2 separate regions of the Homo sapiens genome follow, and region 1 is linked to region 2. The links come from fine-mapping of genetic effects on gene expression. Tissue or cell type: testis. Region 2 holds a variant in brackets; the other region holds the start of a gene. All regions are shown on one strand. Distances are between the middles of the regions.

Evidence for each region. PIP is the estimated chance that this variant, and not a neighbour inherited with it, causes the effect.
Region 1: KLK1 starts here. The variant in region 2 is fine-mapped to the expression of KLK1 in testis (GTEx, PIP 0.91).

What each region holds. Positions count from the first base shown.
Region 1 is chr19:50,819,483-50,827,583 of GRCh38, reverse strand. It overlaps KLK1 (kallikrein 1), which reads left to right and starts at 3,797. Exons shown (of 5, transcript NM_002257.4): 1 at 3,797-3,881; 2 at 5,713-5,872; 3 at 7,141-7,430; 4 at 7,549-7,685. The coding sequence starts at 3,836. It overlaps KLK15 (kallikrein related peptidase 15), which reads left to right. Exons shown (of 6, transcript NM_017509.4): 4 at 423-706; 5 at 827-963; 6 at 1,636-2,295. The coding sequence ends at 1,788. RefSeq lists a silencer at 6,536-6,605 and an enhancer at 7,719-7,848.
Region 2 is chr19:51,586,284-51,594,384 of GRCh38, reverse strand. It overlaps ZNF175 (zinc finger protein 175), which reads right to left. Exons shown (of 5, transcript NM_007147.4): 5 at 1,875-7,758. The coding sequence ends at 5,918. LINC01530 (long intergenic non-protein coding RNA 1530) reads left to right here and starts at 5. Exons shown (of 2, transcript NR_034159.1): 1 at 5-436; 2 at 1,334-2,602. RefSeq lists enhancers at 1-289, 290-925, 926-1,561 and a silencer at 6,493-6,693. The variant A/G (reference allele first, on the strand shown) is at 3,122.

The DNA of each region.
Region 1 (8,101 bases), 770 kb after region 2:
CAGACGCCAGAACTCCTGGGTTCTGAAAGACGAGGAGGCCGGATGTCAAGCCCCTGGGTTAGGAAGGAGTGTGTGTTTCAAAGCCTTCGATCTCTGAAGGAGGAAGGAGAAGACTAGTTCCAGCTTTTGAGCCTCAGTTCTAGGGATGTGAGAATCCTGGATTCGGGGACAGACCAGGAGGGGGCTGGGAGTAGTTGGAGGGGATCGAGTTCTAGGAGTGTGCCTGACTTCAGACTCGTTGGTCCTTGAGGAGCAGGGGCTGGAACCATTGGCTTCAGGGTCTTGGGAAAAGGTAATGGGATGTCGAGATTTCTAAAGGGTCGGGAGACCTCGGGTTGCCCACTCTTTGATCTTTCTGTCCTCTACTTGCGGGTAACCACTGGCCCGCACTCCACTGGCGGGAAAACCACTCGCCCGCACAGCTTCATGAGAGTGCGCCTGGGAGAGCACAACCTGCGCAAGCGCGATGGCCCAGAGCAACTACGGACCACGTCTCGGGTCATTCCACACCCGCGCTACGAAGCGCGCAGCCACCGCAACGACATCATGTTGCTGCGCCTAGTCCAGCCCGCACGCCTGAACCCCCAGGTGCGCCCCGCGGTGCTACCCACGCGTTGCCCCCACCCGGGGGAGGCCTGTGTGGTGTCTGGCTGGGGCCTGGTGTCCCACAACGAGCCTGGGACCGCTGGGAGCCCCCGGTCACAAGGTGCGTGAAAGGATGGAGCTGGATGCGAGGCCTCAAGGAATCCTATGCTCCAGGGCTCTTGGGCGGAGGGGACAAGGGCCGGAATTTATGGATCTGCTCCAAGTCCACTGTCTTCCCCAGTGAGTCTCCCAGATACGTTGCATTGTGCCAACATCAGCATTATCTCGGACACATCTTGTGACAAGAGCTACCCAGGGCGCCTGACAAACACCATGGTGTGTGCAGGCGCGGAGGGCAGAGGCGCAGAATCCTGTGAGGTCAGAGCCTAGAGGGGCCATCAGGCGGAAGAAGAGGGATGGGGACAGGTGTGGGAGTCCGGATGGGGTTGGATTTTCTTTGCTTTGGGCCAGAGAAGATGCTAGGGTTAGGCTTGGAGATGGAGTAGGAAGAGAAGTTAGAATAGGGGTGAGGTTGGAGTTGGGGTTATAGGTGGGGATTGCGTTGTTTGAGGTGGATAATGTGATAGTTAGTTTGAGATGGCATGGGTTGGGGTTGAGAATGGGAATGGTTTGGTTTGATTCTGGGTGGGAAATACGTCAGGGTTGAATTGGGATGAGGTAGATTTTGTTTGGAATGCAGAAGACATGAAGATTGAGATTGGATTTTGAGATGGGCATGGGTTTGATTTGATTTTGAATGGTGAGGATGTGGGCTGAGTTGGATTTAACTTAGTACAGTTGCACTGGAGTTGCATGGGGGTGAGATTGGATATAGGTTGGGTGAGTTGTATTGAGCTGTGTTGAATTGGGGTTGGGGTTGGGGTTGGGTTGGCTCTGTTTGGGATAAACTGGGCTGTATTGAGTTGAGTTGGGTTGGGGTTCCCTGGGATGGGGATGGATTGGGTTTGGGGTGAGATTGCAAATGGTGATTAGGATGAGGATGAATCCAGGAGGTTTCACTCAACCTGAGACCCCCTCTTTTCCCCACAGGGTGACTCTGGGGGACCCCTGGTCTGTGGGGGCATCCTGCAGGGCATTGTGTCCTGGGGTGACGTCCCTTGTGACAACACCACCAAGCCTGGTGTCTATACCAAAGTCTGCCACTACTTGGAGTGGATCAGGGAAACCATGAAGAGGAACTGACTATTCTAGCCTATCTCCTGTGCCCCTGACTGAGCAGAAGCCCCCACAGCTGGCCAGCAGCCCCGCCTGACATGGAACAGAACGGAGCCATCCCCCAAGACCCTGTCCAAGGCCCAGATGTTAGCCAAGGACTTGTCCCACCTGAGGACAAAGCTGGCGCTCAAGGTCACCTGTTTAATGCCAAGATAACAAAGCGCTGATCCAAGTTGCTCTGTAGGAATTTCTGTGACTTTTTTCTGGGGTCAAAGAGAAACCCCGAGACACTGTACACTGTTCCTTTTCACCCACCACCCCGATCCCTAGGTGAGGAGAAGCGGCTTGAAGCAGGGCTCCATTCATTCAACACACATGACCACCCGTGTGATCTTGAACAAGAGGCCCAATCTCACTTCGCCTTGGTTTCCTTATCTGTAAAATGAGACCATCTTATTGCTGACTTCAAAGGGCTGTTGTGAGGATTAAATGAGATGATTCGTCTGAACTGATTAAAATCGTGTCTGGCACTGAGTAAATACCCTCTATCTCTGGATCCCAGTTAAAGGACCTAACAGACACTAGATTACCAAGAATGGCTTTTTCTTTAAGGTTTAGTTCTGGGCCGGGCATGGTGGCTCACACCTGTAATCCCAGCACTTTGGGAGGCCAAGGCGGGCGGCTCACTTGAGGTCAGGAGTGCAAGACCAGCCTGGCCAACATGGTGAAACCCCATCTCTACTAAAAATACTAAAAAAATTTAGCCGGGCGTGGTGGCACACGACTGTAATCCTAGCTACTTGGGAGGGTGATGTGGGAGGATCGCTTGAACTTAGGAGGCAGGAGTTGCAGTGAGCCGAGATCGCGCCACTGCACTCCAGCCTGGTGACAGAGCAAGACTCCATCTCAGAAAAAAAAAAAAAAAAAAAAAGATTTAGTTCTGGGCTTCCTGGTAGCCATGGCAAAAAGGCAAATACTGTCCTTTCCTTAGCCAGGTCCCTGATATACAGCAGAGGCTGGAACTCTGAGCTGCTTTGATTTTACCAAAAAGCCAAGACAACCTGTTGGAAGCCTATGGGTTTACCATTGAGGCTGCAGGAATCTAGTTCCTAATTATCTTCAGAGACCACAAAATGTGATGTTCAAGGTCGCTGAATGTTGAAGTACATGAACCTGGCTCGTGAGACCTAAATATTGTACTGGTGGTGGGGGGGAAGGGTCATTGGAATCTGTGGTTAGCCTGATCTTGACCTGGGAGGGAAGGTTGTCCAGATCTCTGGGACTTTGGAGGACAGGACGTTGAGCACCCATAACTGGGAGCAAGAAGTGGGAGGCTCATTGAGACCCCAGCATTGTTTGGGAGGGACACTGGATTTTGTAATGCTAAAGAACTTACCCTGGGAGACCCCTGAAACTTCACATTCCTGGATCTGGAGGCACTAGGAATGTGGTGATGTGTACCCCAAAATTTTATTATGAAAGGAACAGTAGCTTTGGGGACCTAGGTCCTGGGTCTGGGAGTGCAAGAACCAGGGCATTCTGAAGGCCAAGGCTTATATTTCAGGGGGAACTGGCAGCTGAGATGCTAGTATCTTGGCTCCGAGTGGTGCAGGGAATCAGAGCCCTAACTGCTGGTGTTTGAGGGCACCAGGTCTGGGGGTGCAGGGCCTTAATTGAGACTGAGGTATATGGGGCTTTGTACCAGGGGTCACTGATTCCTCCGTCTTCCTGTTTCTGCTTCCCCTCAGTCCCCCCTTGCCTCACTGGCTGCTCCCCAGAGCAAAGCCCCAGAGCCACAGGCCCTGCCCCACCTGGCTTCAACCCCAGGAATGCGTCCAGCGTGATCCAGGGCCTGCAGAACAGGTGCTGGTTCTCCCTCCCCGTCTACAGCTCTGGGGATCGGAGGGGGGGGGGGCAATTGTCCAGCCCCCAGGCAACAGGGGAAGGGCCTTGGCCAACATCTGGGTGCCAGCAGGGCAGGGGTGGGGCTCTGAGGGGATAAGGGCTTTTAAAAGCCTCCCCAGGGAGGTTCCCCAGTTCCTCCACCTGCTGGCCCCTGGACACCTCTGTCACCATGTGGTTCCTGGTTCTGTGCCTCGCCCTGTCCCTGGGGGGGACTGGTGAGACAGTGGGGGGATGTGGGAGGGGGAACGGGCCCTGATTCTCTTGCTGGCCTCACATCCCCCCCCGATAAGACCTTCCCCTCCAACACCCCACCCTCATCCCTCTGGCCCACAGTCTATCCTAGTCCGGGGTGCCCCGGCTCTTATCTATCTTGCGCGGCCCCACCCTAAACTTCCACCCCCGCTCCTCCATGTTGTCATAGTGCTCACTCCCACACCAGATTCCTGCTCCTCCCAGGAAGCCTCAGTACTTTCTCCTCTTCCCTAGCCAACGCCCTGTCCCACCGCTTTACCAAAGGGGCAGATTCTGGGCCATCTCTGTCTCTCTCTGGAGGACCCCAACCCTCCCATGGGCTTCCCCCACCCCACAGGACTCTGATCATCCCCTCCTGCCCCCTAGTTCCCTGCGGCCACCTATTTGGCTCCTGAGTCTACAAATCCCACCACACTCCAGTGACTTTTTCCATCCAGCTGTCCGCTCTCAACTGTGTCCTCCAGACCCTGACATCTGGTCTCCCCAGTCCTTCCAGGGTCCCCCAAATTTCACCAGAAAACCCTGCTTCCCAAACTGGCATGTGGGATCCCCCATCTGGTATGGGGGGGGGTCTGCAAATGTCCCTTCCCACCCAGCACCCCCAGCTCTCCCAGGAAAAACACCACACCCTCCCACCACATGCTCCTTTCCTTGGGGAAGTTCCATCCCGCCCCAGGCCCCAGCCCTTCTCTGCCTGAATTGTTCCTACACAGCTCTGGTTTTCTGGAACCCCACCCCAAGGATCCTGAATGCCTTCTCAGCCAGCGCTTCTGCCCTGGCCTCCCCCAAGTCAGTATGTGATTCTACAACCTCACGTCAAGTGGGTCCTGCATTGCATTCCCACAGCTGCTTGGCGCCTGTTCTCACCACTTCTCCAATCCTCTTCCTAGGATTGCCTCCAAGAGGACCCCATATCCTTCCAGTACCCTCAGACCATGAACCCCATCCCCATGAGAAACGAAGATCCCATCCTTCACCCTGTCCGAGAAGGACTGCCACTCACGCCTCCCTCCTCCTGAGCCCCGTCCCAGTCCTGACCGCAACTGTGTTCTCAGGGCCCCAACCTCCCCTCAGATTGCCATTCCTGGTTCACAGGAAGGACCCCAAAACCTCTCGGAAGCCCACCTCTAGCCTTAACCATAGCCCTTTCTTTTACCCTTTAACCAGGAAGCCCTGAAATCTAACTGTCCCAGCCAAGCTGGCCCCTTCCAACCCCAATGTAGGGACCCCAAGTCACCCCCAAACTCTTCAGTCCAGATGCTCTTCTTTACCTCTCAGACCTGGTTCCCTAAAGCTGCATCCTTTCCTGAACCTCAAAAGCCCAACCCAGGTCCTGTTTCCCTAGCCTAGGAGCCCCTTAGCCCTCCAGATTCTTCCTCAGTGAGCCTCTGATCCTGTCCCACCCTTGGCGCCTTGATCCCTGGTTTCCAGAATCCCTTTCCACTCCCCTAACCCACCACCTCCCATCCCCCAGCCCCAGACCCCAAATGACCTGACGCCCAGATGCAGTGTCTGCTCCAGACACTGTCTCCTGTCTCCTACCCTGATCCCTGGAGGCTGCTCTACTGTCAGAGCACAAAATCTCCCCACCAGGTCCAGCCACCACTCCAAAAGCCCAGGGAACAGTCCAGAGTCCCACCCCTTCCCAACACCCCTTGCCCATGTCCCCAACCTCCAGCCCTGGTCCTCTACCCGCAATGTCCCTTCAGACCCACAGCCCAGCTCCCTCTCCTAGCCTTGTCCCTGGCCTCTCCTGCCAACCCTGCCCTTCCTGACCCAGCACCGCCTCTGCAGGTGCTGCGCCCCCGATTCAGTCCCGGATTGTGGGAGGCTGGGAGTGTGAGCAGCATTCCCAGCCCTGGCAGGCGGCTCTGTACCATTTCAGCACTTTCCAGTGTGGGGGCATCCTGGTGCACCGCCAGTGGGTGCTCACAGCTGCTCATTGCATCAGCGAGTGAGTAGGGGCCTGGGGTCTGGGAGGAGGGCATCTATGCTGCCACAGGATTGACAGGCCAGTGGCATTCCCCTTGGATAACCTCAGGCAAGACTGGGGGGCTGAGGCAGAGAGGAAGGCTCTGGCGCAGGTCGCCTGGCAGGGCAGAGCTGGGCTGGACACCCCTCTCCAAGGCTGCCTGGGTCTCTTGGGATCTGGTTCTGCTTGTGTCTCTGTGTGACTGTGTTCTGGTCTCTGTCTTCCTCTCTCTCCTCTGTCTCCTTGTCTCTGCATCTCCCCTGTCTCTGTCTGTCTCTGAGTCTCTCTGCGGCATCTCTGTCACTGTGTCTCACCCTCCATCTCTCTACCCATCTCTCTCTCTCTGGGTCTCTACCTCACCGCTCCCTCATCCCTACTAAACACACACCCAGATGGACCTAAGGGAGGCCCCAGAGTAAAGGAAGGGCTTTATCCCCAACTTGTGTGCCTGGGAGGGGGCGCCTCTCCCTCTGTCCAGCTCCCCGCCCCACAGGATATCCCTCCACTCTGGAGAGACACAGGGAAGGGCTGGTTTCAGCGGGAGCTGGGTGGGGCAACTGAGGGAGGAGGAAGGAGGAGGCGGGGCGAGAAACGCGCGGGAGGGTGCTGGGAAGGGAAGGGGGCCTCGACCTTGGACTTCAGGCCAGGCCACCTGCCCCTGGGGAGCCCGCACCACAGCCCCAGCTGCAGCTGAGCCGCTCTCAGGCCTCCCCTCCTCCCTACCTGCCCCCACCCTCCCCACCTGCCCCCACCCTCCCCCAGGGCCTCCCTCCCTTTTCTCTCCCACACTCGGTCACTCCTGCTTCCTCTCTGCCTCTGTTTCTAGTTCTCACTCTGACGTCCCGCGTCCTTTTTCATTTGTCTGCTTCTCGCTCCCTTCCGTGTTCTGTTCCCTCTTCCTCCCTCTTCCCTGGGCCTGTTTCTCGCTGTCCCTGTCTTTTATCCTTCTCATCTGCCTCTTTTTTGCTCACCCTGTTTCTCACTGCCCTCCCCTCCGCCTTTTTCACCCCTCTGTCCTTTTGAGCTCTTTTTTGCTCTGTCTCTTCATTTGCCTTTTGCACTCTCAAAATCTTTCATCTTCCCATTCGCTGTCTGTATTTCTCCATAACTATATCTTTCTTCCTCTGTCTCCGCCCACCCACATTTTTCTCTTTCCCTTTCTCTCTTTGGGGACCCTCCCCCATGCTCCCCTGCCCCATCCCCTTTTCCCCTTCCCGTCTTCTCATCCCTCCATTCCCATCTTTCCCCAGCAATTACCAGCTCTGGCTGGGTCGCCACAACTTGTTTGACGACGAAAACACAGCCCAGTTTGTTCATGTCAGTGAGAGCTTCCCACACCCTGGCTTCAACATGAGCCTCCTGGAGAACCACACCCGCCAAGCAGACGAGGACTACAGCCACGACCTCATGCTGCTCCGCCTGACAGAGCCTGCTGATACCATCACAGATGCTGTGAAGGTCGTGGAGTTGCCCACCGAGGAACCCGAAGTGGGGAGCACCTGTTTGGCTTCCGGCTGGGGCAGCATCGAACCAGAGAATTGTATGTGGGGGCAGACTGTGTAGCCCAAGGCGGGGATGGGGACTCCTGCGTCCAAGGGAGAAAGGGCCAGGGAAGCAGGTGAGGTCGGGCTGCAGCCCTTTTTCTCCCGGGTTCGTAGTCTCATTTCCAGATGATCTCCAGTGTGTGGACCTCAAAATCCTGCCTAATGATGAGTGCAAAAAAGCCCACGTCCAGAAGGTGACAGACTTCATGCTGTGTGTCGGACACCTGGAAGGTGGCAAAGACACCTGTGTGGTGAGGCAGCCCTGCCCCCAGGGTCTGGAAGGGCTGAGGGAGGGGACTCAGCCTCTGAACTGGCTTCTGAGAGCTAACCAGGCATCTGCTTCACTGCTTCCCAGCTAGCTGTAGCCACTCGCCCCATCAGTGCCCCAGCTCCCCCTCCTTCCCCCGCCCATCCAGGGACAACTGCATCTCACCCCCCACACCAGAGTTCACCGTTCCTCGTGGTAATGTGTTGTTACCGTCGAGTCAGAGAGTAGTCCTGGAGAGGTGGCCTCTGCGATGTGCCCGCAGGGGCAGCGTCCTGCAGATGGTCCTGCCCCTCCTCCCCCTAACCTGTCTGCAGGCACTGTCCACCTGGACCCTGCCCCATGTGCAGGAGCTGGACCCTGAGGTCCCTTCCCCCTTGGCCAGGACTGGAGACCCTGTCC
Region 2 (8,101 bases):
GCACAATAGCCGTGCCAGAATTCTCTGCCAGCTGCTGTGCACTGCTGTCAGTGCAAAGATGGGATGGACTTTTTTTTCAGATTTTCTGCTGTTGTGGGAGTATGGCAAGAGTTTGAGGGGGCGGAGAAAGAGATTGGGAATGTGAAAAGGGAAGATAGCACCTGCGCTAAGCACATTCCTAGGATTGGGCCGCGTCTCGGGGATGCAGAGTGGGCTCTTCGGCGCGCCCTGCAGCCATGGGAGTGGACGCCTGCCCAGGCCGAAGGGCAAGGACTTGCGGGGTGGGGTCTCTGTGCATGCGCGGAGCTGAAAGGGAGCGTTTTGCAGATCTCCACGCGTGCGCAACTCTCGGGACGTGGACGCGGTGAACAGTTACGCACAATCGTCTTTCTGACACAAACACACCCTGCCAGGTGGAAGCCAGGATGGAGGGCAGGTGAGACCCGTAAGGCAAGATCCCAAAACCAAGGAACGGAGCACTCTCCCCGCTTGCTCCCCAGATCCAAGCCCTCCACTTCCTTCCAATGCCCCCCTTCCCGAAACTGCTCCCTCCTGTATATTCTGAGATCTTATCACTATTCCCGTGAGGCCCTTGATAAGGAGGATTGAGAGTGAAGGGTGATGGGAGACACGCCTTGGGCGTCTTCTGTCCACCTCAAGGATTGAACTTTGGTAACTGGAACTCATTCATTTGTTAATCTGTGTGCTAGGCCCTTTGACCCGCTGGCCAGATGCACCGGGACACAGGTGTATTCAGCCTGGTCCAGAGATAAGGATGATAAATCTTAATGTAAAGGTATCAGATGTTAAGGGCTGCAGGAGCCCAGAGGTTACAAGTGCTGCAAGCCAGAACATGGGGAAACAACAGCAATTAAGCCGTTAGCTTGTGCCTTGGAGGGGTGTTTGCCCTGCACCCCACTCACTACCTGAAGATAAATGGCTTCTCCAACGTGTAGTGGGGTTGGGATGATGAGGATGACATCACTGCCAGGTGGGAGGCAGGAGCTGCAGGTCCTGACATGATGAGGCAGGTATGGGCCGCCCTGGGCTGAGGGGGACATGGGCTACCCTGGACTGGAGGGCTGGGCTGTGGCATGGGGACCCTGTCAGAGACAGGTGTTTGGCCTCCATGCCTTCCTGTGTCTCTGGAAGGGTGAAACTAAGCGGGATGCTCCTCTCCCAGCCCCACCTGCTTTTCAGAGGCTACCATATGCTGGAGGGGGAAGATCCTGGCCACAAGCAGAGGCCCTGGAGGTGAATCAGTGTTGGAAGTGGGGTGGTTGGTTCTGGGTCCTCCCTGAGGCTCACATGGCTGCCCCTCCCCATCCTCCAGGCCTCGCCTTCTGTCCCGGATCCGCCAATCCTCCGATCCCTGGATCCTCTGATGATGGCATCAACTGTCTGGGCTACAGGTTGCTCTCCAAAGAGTGGCTGCCCCTCTACACCAACCTCACTGTGGACATAACTTCCAAGCCTCAGGAGACCCAGTGCAAAGCTGAGGGGTATCTTATCTGGAAGCCAGAAAGAGCCCCTGAGGCCAAGGTCACAGGGAAGCCCTCCCACTCACCCCACCTGGTTTCTTTTAAAAGTAGAGTTTATTTTATCTCCTTTCTGCCATCCCTAATTCCTTCCTTCCATCTGTCCATCCATCTTCTTTCCCCTCCCTCCCTTCCTCCCTTCTCCTTCTCCTCCTCCCCACACCTGCTTCTTTTCTCTTTCTTTCAACTATGTCCAGAAGGTCCTTCTTAACAAACACTAATTAGTACAGGGAAAGGTCTCTTTAAGTGAATGCATTTAAAATAGGGAGTCCACCTTTGTGGTAAATAGTGTGCACGAGGTGAGTCTGGATCAGGACTTCACACTTGATAACGGAATTCAATTTCTCAAAATACCTTTATTTCAGATTTAATGAAATTCCATGTTTGTTGAATCATTAAGAACGAGCATTTGTGTTGTACTCATGGTGGACAGCCACCATTCTAATGCTTGACTTTACATAATTAACGCATGTAATCTGCAAAGGAGCCACAAGGCGAGATCTATTATTATTCCCATTGTGCTGCTGGAGAAATTAAGGCAGAGAGGTTAAGTTGCTTGCCACCAAACTAGCGAGGGGCAGAGCTGGGATGTGTAGCATCCAGGTAGGTTGGCTCCAGAGCCCATGAGCCTAACTACTACTGTGCCCAACCTTTGTGCCAATCGCCACAACAGTCAAAGGATGGATCAAGTACTGGTTTTGGGGGTGGGGGCAGGGGACTCTGGGCAGTATGTTTTCTGATCACATCACATGACAGTAGGACATTCTTCATTTCACCATGGCTTTCACTGCCCAACAATAAAAAGGTCATGGGCACTTTGGGAGGCCGAGGGGGGGGGATCACGAGGTCAGGAGATCGAGACCATCCTGGCCAACACGGTGAAACCCCGTCTCTACTAAAAATACAAAAAATTAGCCAGGCATGGTGGTGGGCGCCTGTAGTCCCAGCTACTCGGGAGGCTGAGGCAGGAGAATGGCGTGAACCCGGGAGGCGGAGCTTGCAGTGAGCTGAGATCGTGCCACTGCACTCCAGAGCCTGGGCGACAGAGCGAGACTCCATCTCACAAGAAAAAAAAAAAAAAGGTCATGAGGAGGTAAAGTAGTACAATGGTTGAGAGTTAAAACACTGGCATCAGATAGCTTGGTTCAAATCCAGGCTTTTCTTGTTCCTAGATTTTCGGTCTTGAGTTTACGTCAAATTCTCTAAGCCTGTTTCCTCATCTCTAAAATGGGGTTTATGAGGTTAGATTATTTCCTACAATGGCTGTGAGGAATAAACGAGTTAGTTCATACAAGCTGCCTAGAATAGTAGCTTCTCCCTCTGGAAACTCAAAACTCTTGACCTCTCATCTCATGATGAGGCCATTGGACTAACATTTATTCATCTCTTAGTTCTCTGAGCCAACAGATCTTTTCACAGATCTGTGAGCATGCCCTCATGTGACTGAAAACTTTAGATAGCTCCCTGGGACCCATCAATTCCAAAGCTAATCACCCAACCAAACTCCAGATTCCTCCGTCTATTATCCCACAGGCATTGAGTACAGACTGGCTTGTCCCAGCGCTTGGTACTGAGAGGAAAGA[A/G]AAAATAGTATGAGACAGAGGCTGGGAGGGAGGTGAGCACTCTAGACAGAGGGGGTTGCGAGGTAGGGAGGAAACTAAGTTGTTAAAGCCAACAGGCCCCGGAAGTGGCACGAGGTCAGAGGTGTGGGATGGCCAGGGAACGAGCAGCTTTCTGGAAGTGGGGAGGAAGGGCTTGCCCTGAGGGGGACAGTTAGGGAGGCCCACGTGAGGAGTGAACATGTGGCTGGAGATGAGGACCCAGAGTGATCCCCCCAGGTGATGCTTAGGAACAGGGAAAGCCCAGATCTGAGAAGGGAGGCACATCCTGAGGGGTCTTTGGAACCAGTGTGTCTACACTGTGGGCTCAAGTTTTTAACACACTTGTCCTAGGGCCCTGCCACCTTCCTCCCTGAAACTGGTCAGGGTGCCACTCCCAGGACCCAGGTGCACACTATTTCCACCCCTCACCACCATGGAGAGGCCTCTGCAGCCTTTCCACCCCACACCAGTCATCTACGGCCGGCCAGCCCTTGTACCTGGACTCCCCAGGTGAGACTCTTCCACCTTTCTCAGGAGGTGGGACATGGTCACTGATACTACGCCCCTGGACAGGGAGAGGCCAGTGAGACACAGAACAGATTTGCTCTCCAGGGCCCAGCACAGGCTCCTGCATGTGCAGTCACCTTGTTTTAGACACAGCCTGAGGTCTGTGCTGGTTCCTGACCAGCTGTGTGGGCCCCTATCAACCTTGAAGGGGTATGGAGACTAAAGCCATGGGTGCCCATCTCTAACACCCTTCTGGAAAAGACTTCCAGCTGACAGAAATCTCCCACCACAGTCCCACACCCAGCACAAGGGAACCAGGCAGGCTCAGGGATACGAGGCCCGCTAAAATTCATCAGCACTTGGTCTGTCCATGCAGTTCCAAGGGTTTAACACACACACACTTCTCACACCAAATGCATGGGGGTAGGGTACTATCATCATCTCCCTTTTGTAGATGAGAAAACCAGAATAGATGAGACCAAATAACTTGCTCAGCAGATGCAGAGGGTAGAGAGTGGAGCCAGGAATCAAATGCAGGAACCTGGCTCCTGGGCCTGTGCACTTAAAAGATTATGCTGGTCTGCTTCTCGGAAGTATTGATAACAGTTCCCTCTCCGTTTTTTAGCAAAAAATGTGTGTGGGGAGGAAATAAGTAATCAAAACTGTGGGAATGGCTAAATAAATTATGGCAGGTCAACCTCATAGAATACACGTGTGTACAATCCATCATGGATTGTAGAATGAAAAAAATACCATCCACACACGTAAGAGATCTGAGTTTTATAAATCAATGAAAGAGTACTTACACAGGTATATGATGATGAACATAGTAATATGTGTGTATGTGTGTGTGTTTGTGTGTGTATCATGTGCTGGCAAACATTTTCTGTAAAGAGCCAGAGAGTAGATATTTTCAGTTTCCAGCTTGGGGGCTATTTGATCTCCGCCAAAACTACTCAATTCTGCCAGTGCAGCACAAAAGAAGCCCAGACAATACATGTCCAAATGAACATGGCTGTGTTCCAATAAAACTTTATTTTAAAAAAACAGTTGGGAGGCCATATTTGGCCAATGGCCACAGTTTGTTGACTCCTGGTGTAAAAATATGAACGAGACTAATGGTTGGCACTAATTATGGAGAGGCTCACTATAGATGGTGGAGATGGAAAGGGGGGGCAAGCTGAGCTAATCCTAAAAGAAGAGAAAATCTGTAATATAAAGATCAGTAAACATTATAGAATCTCATTTATGCATTTACCAAAAATGCACATTCATGTGTATGTATAATAAAGGAGTTAATCATTGTTGATACAACCTCATTATATAAATATTCAATAGGGAATAATTTTTATAAAAACAATTAGATTAGATTCTCTTAAAAAATAACTCATCTGCTTACATCTCCTGCTATGCAGTGAATTCTGCAGCAAACCCCACTGCACTGAGGGCATACATACATACATACATACGCATACATACACATATGCTGACCAGACCATATACATATGTCTGCATATGCATATATATACATACATAGATACAGAAATATACGTACATACAGGTTGGGTATTCCTAATCTGAAAACCCAAAATCTGAAACTTTTTGAACTCTAACATGACGCTCAAAGGAAATGCTAATTGGAGCATTTAATCTTGGATTTTCAGATTAGGGATGCTCAACCAATAAATATAATGCAAATATTCCAAAATCTGTAAGTATCTGAAATCCAAAATGCTTCTGATCCCAGGCATTTTGGAGAAGGGATACTCAACCTGTATATAATAATATGCTTATATATTATATATATGCTTATATACATAAGGCGCACACACACACATAAAATATTGTCCTATCATGACTGTGTTGGCACTTTAAAAATATTGATATCCCACAATAAACAGGGTTATCATTGATATAATTTCCCACATATTTTACTATAAATAATCGAGTAACAACCTGTCTTGTACCATTCTTTACAGAAAGGCTTTTCTCAATGCGTTAGTCAGGGTTTCTTCCCGGGGAGAAAATTTATAATCCTTAATGAGGCCAGTACTCAGAAGGACATTTCTGCTTACTCTTTTCTCTGTAATTGCCCTCACTAAAATAAAGCATGACTTTTTTATCATGTGTTCACACATGCAGTGCATCCCTAGAGTTTTTCTGAAGCATGAATTCAATAACATATAATTAGACCTGATTCTGAGAAGATTTTCTCTTCTTCAAGAAACTCGGAGTATATTTCATTTATGAATATGCTGATGCACTAGGAATTCATTGCTTGGTAAAGCCTTTCACAGAATAACTGCATTTGTAAGATTTGTCTCTGGTATGAGTTGTTTGGTGTTTATTGAAGTTTGACCTGTTGTTGAAGGCCTTTCCACATTCAGAACACACATAAGGTCTTTCTCCCGTGTGAATTCGCTGATGCACCTTGAGTTGTGGTTTCTTACTGAACGATTTCCCACAGTCAAGGCATTCATAGGGTTTCTCTCCCATGTGAGTTCTTTGATGGGTAATCAACTCTGATTTCTGGACAAAAGCCTTCCCACATTTGTAACAGACAAAAGGCCTCTCTCTAGTGTGAGTTATTTGATGTTTATGGAAATTTGACCTGCCGTTGAAGGCCTTCCCACATTCAGTGCACACATAGGGTTTCTCACCCGTGTGAATTCGCTGATGCTCTTTGAATTGAGACTTAGAAGTGAAGGCTTTCCCACATTCACTGCATTTGTAAGGCTTCTCTCCGGTGTGAATTCTCTGATGCATGCTGAGTATTGACTTCTGGTTGAAGGCTTTCCCGCATTCACTGCATACATGGTGTCTTTCTCCAGTATGAATTTTCTGGTGTATATTCAGGTGTGACTTTTGGGTGAAGGTTTTTCCACAGTCACTGCATTCATAAGGTTTCTCCCCTGTATGAATTCGATGATGTATATCAAGCTGTGACTTGGAAATGAAGGATTTCCCACAGTTGTGGCACTGATAAGGTTTTTCTCCTGTGTGGCTTCTTTGATGGACAATCAGGTGTGCCTTCTGGATGAAGGCCTGCCCGCATTCGATACACACATAGGACTTCTGCCCTGAGTGGATTCTCTGGTGCAAGCTGAGTGTTGACTTCTGGGTAAAGGCTTTCCCACATTCACTGCATGCATACTGTCTCTCACCAGTATGAATTTTCTGATGTATAATGAGGGTTGAGTTTTGGGAGAAGCCTTTGCCACATTCACTGCATTCATAGAGTTTTTCTCTACTGTGAGTTCTCTGATGTCTGAAGAGAGATAACATCTGGAAAAAGGCTTTTCCACAGTCATGGCATTTATAGGGCTTCTTTCTAGTGTGTGTTTTCTGGTGCGTAAGCAATTCTGATCTCTGAATAAAGACCTTCCCACATTCCTTGCATATACAGGGTATATCACCTGTATGATCTGTCAGATATACACTGAGTTTTAGTTGTGGCATGAAGGCTTTTCCACATTTGCCACATTCATGGAGGTTTCCTACACTATGAATTCTCTGTTGGGCAAAGAGGTGTGACTTCTGGGTGAAGCTCCCCCCACATTCAGAACATCCATCTGGTTTCTTCTGAGTATGAATTTGATGTTGCTTGAGTGACTGTTTATGGCCACAGACTTTTCTACACTGGTTACCTTTGCAAAATGTCTCTCCTGTATGAATATTCTTGCTGCAGGCATCAGAAGAGCTATGGCTGAATAGCTGACCAGACCCAACAACGTCATCAAGCTGTTCTGTGTCATTGCTTTCATTCTGACCGTTCACTTCTAGGTTCAGCTTCAAACTTTCTGTAAATAAGCAACATTTCTGAGGTTGTTTCTGTGAAGAAGCAAGGTGGGGCCTCGTGCGAATCATTTTCCCAGGGTCCTTATATTCACAATTGCTTTCTGTGTTCAATGTTTTCTTGTTGAAGAAAGCACTGTGACTCATGGGTTGAATTTGATTTTGCTCATCTTTCTTTGTGCGGTCAGCATCCAGCCTCAGTTCTTCTAAAATGGAACACCATGAACCATCTCTTGTGAACTCACCTACCATATCCTTTTGAAATGAAGCTTTCTTAGAAATCTCCTTTTGTGGGATTTCAAGCCCAAACTCCCTTTCTAAAAGGAGAAAGAGAAGATGAAATAGACACAATGAACAAGAAAGAGGAGAAACTGCATGAAGCTGATTGACACAGAACACAAGGAAATTGCTGAGTCATGTAATAATGCTGCTAATGATGCTGACAATGAGCAGAAACACAGAGCCCTTATTACATGATGAGCATTTATCTACATAGCACTTAGCATGTGCCAGGCAGTGGCCTACATGGTGCACACATACTCATTTAATCTGCATAATAACCTCAGGAGGTAGCGATGATGGGTGTTCCTGTTTTACAAAGAAAAGGAAGCACATAATGGTTATGTAATTGGCCAAGATCACTTTGCTAATCTGTGGGGA